Linked DNA regions of Homo sapiens: region 2 is linked to region 1. Evidence: fine-mapped expression QTL. A gene starts in region 1. The other region holds a variant in brackets. All regions are shown on one strand. Distances are between the middles of the regions.

Evidence for each region. PIP is the estimated chance that this variant, and not a neighbour inherited with it, causes the effect.
Region 2: its variant is fine-mapped to the expression of DOC2B in whole blood (TOPMed, PIP above 0.99).

The regions. Positions count from the first base shown.
Region 1 is chr17:179,828-182,734 of GRCh38, forward strand. DOC2B (double C2 domain beta) reads right to left here and starts at 1,823. Exons shown (of 9, transcript NM_003585.5): 1 at 1,280-1,823. The coding sequence starts at 1,652. RefSeq lists enhancers at 179-745, 2,207-2,708.
Region 2 is chr17:202,111-205,017 of GRCh38, forward strand. No RefSeq gene overlaps it. Among named protein-coding and RNA genes, the nearest start is that of LINC02091, 16 kb to the left of the region's middle. The variant G/A (reference allele first, on the strand shown) is at 1,089.

The DNA of each region.
Region 1 (2,907 bases):
TCCAGGCCTCTAGAAAGTGCAAAGCAGGCAGTTTCCCCTACAGGGGCCCTGCTCTAACCGGCCACTGCTGATGGGCCTCCCCAGGTGGGGCGATGGGGGGTCTGTGCCCCGGGGGCACTGGTAATCCCTACCTTCAGCTTCTGGTGGCACATTTGATGCTTGGGAAACTCCAGGCCCGCAGCCCACAGGCCCTGGTGAGTGCCCAGGCCAGGCGCAGACATCCCTGCTGCGCAGGGGAGGGGCAGCACCAGCCCTGGAGAAGGGCCACATCCCGGGAAGGGCTGGGGTTTGACGAGACGCTGGTTTTCCAGGTCTCAGTGACAAGTCTGGAGCCACAGCTGAGCTAGGAGGGGGTTCTCACATGCCATCCCCACCCCGCGCAAACCGACTCCTCACTGGACTGCGACCTCTTCCGGCCTCGGTTTCCCAGCCAGTCCCGGCTCGGGCCGGACAGGCACCCTCGGGGACGGGAAAAGGCGCCAGGAGCGCCCACCGGCCGGGCCTCGGTCCCGGGACTCCGGCGCTTGCCTGCTCCCGGGGGCTCAGGGCTCAGTCCGGGAGGAGGGGGAGCGGGCTGGGGGGCCCTCTCTGCCCGGGGGCCGCGGGCGTAACAGGTGGGCGAAGGTGCGCGGCCCTGGCGAGGGCTGCGGCGGGGTCCATGGACACCGGAGGAGGAAACGCCAAGGTTTTTCCAAAGGACAAGCGGCCCCGCGGTCCTCCTGGTCCTCTGCTCGCGCGCCAGCAAAGCAGCTGCGCTCTGCGGGCCGCCGGGACCACGCGGGAGGCCGGGCCGCTCCCAGCCTCGGGCCCCTCCCCAGCTCGCCCCAGCCCCGACCCTCGGCCGCGAGGCCCTCCCGGAGCGGCTGGCGAGCGGGGAGCGACCGCGCGGCCGGCAGCAACTGGTGTCTCCCCGGGACGCAGCTCCGCCCTTCCCGGGAACAAAAGCAGCCGCCCGCGCCGGAGCTCCGGGAGGGCGGGCTGGCAGGGAGGGGGCGCGGCGCCGGCTCCGAGGAACCCGGCCCCGGAAATGGGACACCCCCAGGGGGTGCCCCCGAACTTCCCTCCTGTCCGGCCTGGGTCGGGGGAGGGCTCGAGGCCGGTGGGCAGGGCGCGGAGAGCGCACCGAGTGCGCCAGGGGCCCGCAAGCCCGCGGCGGGGTTGTGAACCGAGGCAGAGCGCGAGCGCGCGAGGGGGACCGGCGGAGGGAAGCCGCGAGGCCGTGGGGGGGCCGAGCCCGAGCCAGGGGAGGGGGCGCGAAGTCGGCGCGTGGGAAACTTACTGCAGTCGTCCGACTCGTAGCCGTCGGCGTCCGGCTCGTCCTCCGGCGGCTTGGCTGGCGGCCGCGCGGGGCTGGGACCCGGGCTGGGGCCCGGGCTGGAGCCGTAGGCTCCGAAGAGCTGGTCCACATCCTCGTCGTCCTCGCGGGCGCCGTCGGAGGGGCTGCGGCGGCCGGCACCGGCCACAGCCGGGCGCGCGGGGGCGTCCGGGGGTGCAGCGGCTCGGGGCCCGGCGTCCGGGGGCAGGCCCCGCGGGAAGCGGGGGAAGTAGTCGGAGATCTGCTTGATGGGACGGATGGGGCCGGGGCACACGTCGATGGCCATATGCTCCTGGATGCTGATGGTCGCCTTCTCCCCGCGCCGCCGGAGGGTCATGCAGGCAGCGCCGCCCCGCCCCGGGCGCGGCCCGGCCCGGCGCGACCCCGGCCCGGGGGCGGCTCAGCAGGCCCGGCGGGGCGCGGCGGGGGCTGCGGGCATCGCCGGCCGCGCCCCCGGACGGCCCTGACTTGGCCGCTGCCCGCTCCGCTGCGGACGGCGCGAGCGAGTGCCAGAGGCCGGCAGGCAGGGGGCGGGCCCAGCCCGCGTCACCCGGCAGCAACCAAGCAGGGTGAGTGTGCGGGCTGCGCGGGCGGCGCGGAGCGGAGGGAGCCGCGCGGCGCCACACTCACTCGCACTCGCACTCACACCGGCGTGCACGCCGGCCCGGGACCCCGCGCGCGCACACTCGCGGCCAGGCAGGGCCGCCGGGCGCCTTCCGCTCATGCACGCCCGCGGCACAAGCTGGGAGTCAACCCGGCAGGGACCCGCAGGACGCGCACCCACACGTTCCCGCGCGTGCCAGCCCACGCTGGGCTCCGCTCGCTCTCTCGGGACACACGCAGGTGTGCAAGTGCACACATGCGTGTGCAGAGACACGTGGTGGAAGCATCCGCTCGCTCACACCGTAGGTCACACACGCAAACGTCTGCATGCGCACATGGTTGTTTTAGGAAGCTGTGACACAGTACACCCCCAATGCACAGGCGCGCACACCTGATGGAGCACACACACAGGTGATCAAGGGCACCCAGGGCACAGGCTTCCCTACCCCCAAGCACCCCTAACAAGATGCACAAACATGAGCCCATAGAAGTGATCAGGGGACCCTGGGCACAACTCCTTCTCTCCTCCCCCTCTAGCAGGACGTGGAGTCACACTCCTAGCATGTAGGGACAGGTTGCCTACACACGGGCAGGACATGTACACGCTCAACTGCACAAGGACACCGGGGCTCAGTCTGTGCACACATATTCTCAGGTCACATACAACACAGCACTCTAACCTCGGGTCAGTCCCTCACTTGGTCAGTGAGTACAGTCTGAAGGACCCCCCGGGGCAGGGTGGCTGAGAACCTGCACAGGGCCTGGTCAGGAGGGAGTGAGGGCAGGGCCTGGGCGGTGAGTGATGCAATAAGGCTGGGCGGCACGCTCCCCCCACCCCCACTCCTACTCTAGGCCTCCCACACGGTCAGATCACTAAACAAATCCCAGAGGGCCCAGCCCTGGCTGTCCGGCTTTCCGGGACCAGAGCTCTGTTGGGAACTGCTGCTGCTTGGACAGGTGTGTTCCCGGAAAGCCCTGGGCATGGATGG
Region 2 (2,907 bases), 22 kb after region 1:
AAAAGCATTTTTCCTAAACGAAGACAATTCCTCTCCAAGAGGAGCTGTTCCCTCCCCAGCTGTTCAGAAAATCCAGGTGTGTTTCCACCTGCAACAATGCCGAGCTGTCAGCTTAGACTTGGAAGGCGCTAAGAGCTGGGGAAGGCCACATTTGGGGTCTGGTTCCAGGCCTTGCGGGTCACCATCCCTGGCTGTATTAGTCCTTTCCTGCACTGCTATAAAGTACCCAAGGCTGGGTAATTGATAAAGAAAAGCAAAGTAATGGGCTCACGGTTCCTCAGGCTGTACAGGAAGCTTGATGCTGGCATGTGCTCAGCTTCTGAGGAGGCCTCAAGAAACTTACAATCATGGCAGAAGGCTAAGGGGGAGCAGGCATGCCACACGGTCAGCGCAGCAGCAAGAGAGTGAGGCGGGAGGTGCTACCCACTTGTAAATGGCCGAGCTCGTGAGGACTCACCAAGGCGGACGGTGCTCAACCAGTCATGGGAAAACCGCCCCCGTGATCTAGTCGCTTCCCACCAGGCGCCACCTCCAACGCTGAGGGTTACAATTCGACATGACACGCGGGGGGGACACAGATCCAAACCACGTCATCAGCTCTTTCAGAGGGAGATGGCTCTGGACCCCACTTTAGAGTCTGGCTGATTTGCTCTCCCAGGTGCGCCTGGCACAGCTCTCAGGTTCTGCAGGAGCCGCTGGGCTTGGACGAAGGGCCCTCCCGCAGTGTGAGGAGCCTGGCGACCTGGCCCGGTCTCACCCCACAGCCTAGGGCAGAGATGCCACAAAGTCACAGACTTTCAGGGCCAAGAGACCCTGGAGTGCGTCTGACTCGGCCTCGTGTTTCACAGGGAATCTGAGGCCCGCACTGGCCAAGTGACCTGTCTGTACTTACACACTCTGGAGGCAGCAGAGTGGAGGAGAGTGGTGCTATGGCCTGAGTGATTTATTTTAGAATACAGTCATGCATTGTATAACGAAGTTTGTCAATGACAGGCTGTATATCCAGCGGTGGTCCCATAAGACTACAAAGCAGCTGAAAATTCCCGTTGCCTAGTGAGGTTGCGGCGTGTAATGTCACAGTGCAACAC[G/A]TTATCACTCGTTTGTGGTGATGCTGGTGTGAACACACCTATTACACTGCCAGTCACATACGAGTGGACAGTAATGCCCTGGGCCCTCACACTCACCACACACTGACTCTCCCACAGCGACTCCAGTCCCGCAAGCTCCATTCACGGGAAGTGCTCTATACACCTGTGTCATTTTAAAACATCTTTTATACCGTATTTTTACTGTACCCTTTCTATGATTAGCTACACACATAATTCCACGGTGTCGCAGTTGCTACATGCTGCACAGGTTTGTAGCCCAGGAGCCCAGGCTCTCCCACATAGCCTAGGTGTGCTGTAGGTTCTGCCACTTAGATTTACGTCCGTGCTCTCTATGATGTCTGCACAATGATGAAATTGCCTGACAACACATCTCTTGGAAGTATCCCTGTCGTATCCTGGTTGTTAGGTGACACATGCCTGTACTTCTGTGTGAATGAGTTTGAGTAAGATCTCATCTGCACACACATTAAGGGCTGGCTAGCCTTATTAGCATAAGGAATGTGGCAGTGGGTTTTCTTTCATTTATTTACTGTTTTTGAATAGGGTCTTGTTTTGTTACCCAGGCTGAGTGCAGTGGCGAGATCATGGCTCACTACAGCCTCCAACTTCTGTGCTCAAGCAATCCTCCTGCCTCAGCCTCCCAAGTAGCTGGGACTACAGCTATAGTGATTTTGATAGGGGGGGAATTTGTTGGGGGTCACTGAGGCGGGCTGGGGCACACAGACCAGGGCTCCCCACGAGGGCCTCTGAGGCACACAGACCAGGGCTCCACACAAGGGCCCTCTGAGGTACGCAGACCAGGCTGAGGCACAGAGACCAGGGCTCAAGAGCTGCTCTGCCCAGGATTCCTGTGGCTGCTGTGAACTGAGTGCTCCTGGCCGAGGACCCACAGCTTCTGGGAAGTGTAGGTTGGGGCTCCTGATCTGCTGGCCCCTCCCTAGGGATGCAGAGCACACAGGCCCTGGGCCTGGAGTGTTTCCATCCATCCACACATCCTTCTTCCCATCAGGACACTGGTCCATCCTCTGTTCATCTGTCCATCCTCTCAGATGTCCTTCAGCACATTGGTCCATGCAGAATATCTATGCACCTGTCTCTCCATCCATCTGTCCAATGCTCCATCAGTCTGTCCATCATCCATCCTCCCATCTGTCCTCCACCCACCCACCCCCACCATCCCCCACCCAATCATCATCCATCCAACTACCCCCTATGCCCCCACTCACCCTTCCCCCACCCAGCCATCCGTTAACCCCTCCCCCACCCATCCTTCCCCCACCCATTCCCCACTCAACTATCGCCCTACCCATCCCCCACTCCTCCACCCACTCACCCATCCATCTCCTCACCCATCCCTCACTCATCCAGACCTCCATCCATCTCCTCACTCACCTGCCATCCACCCATCCCCCAACCATCCTCACCCCTCCACCACCCACTGACCCATCCCCTACCCCTCCATCTACCCATGCATCCATGCATCCATTGATCCAGCAATATTTCTTGACAGCTAACTAGGGACCCAAAGGTGAATAAGCCTTGACTTCTGCCTTCAGGAGCCGGGCTCTAGGGAACCCAGCCTTGCCATGCCACGTCTGGAAGCAGAGCCTGGGAAGAAGGTGCAGCGACTGATCTGGGCAGGCCCCTGCTGTGGGGGCAGGGATGACAGGGCCCAGCTTTTGGTTCCCTTTTCCCCATGAAAGAGCCTGGGCAAAGGTGGAGGCGATGGCAGTCGGGAAGGAGGGAGCAGGGAGGGAGAAGCTTCATTTGTCAGCTGCTCAGCAGGTACAGTCAGACT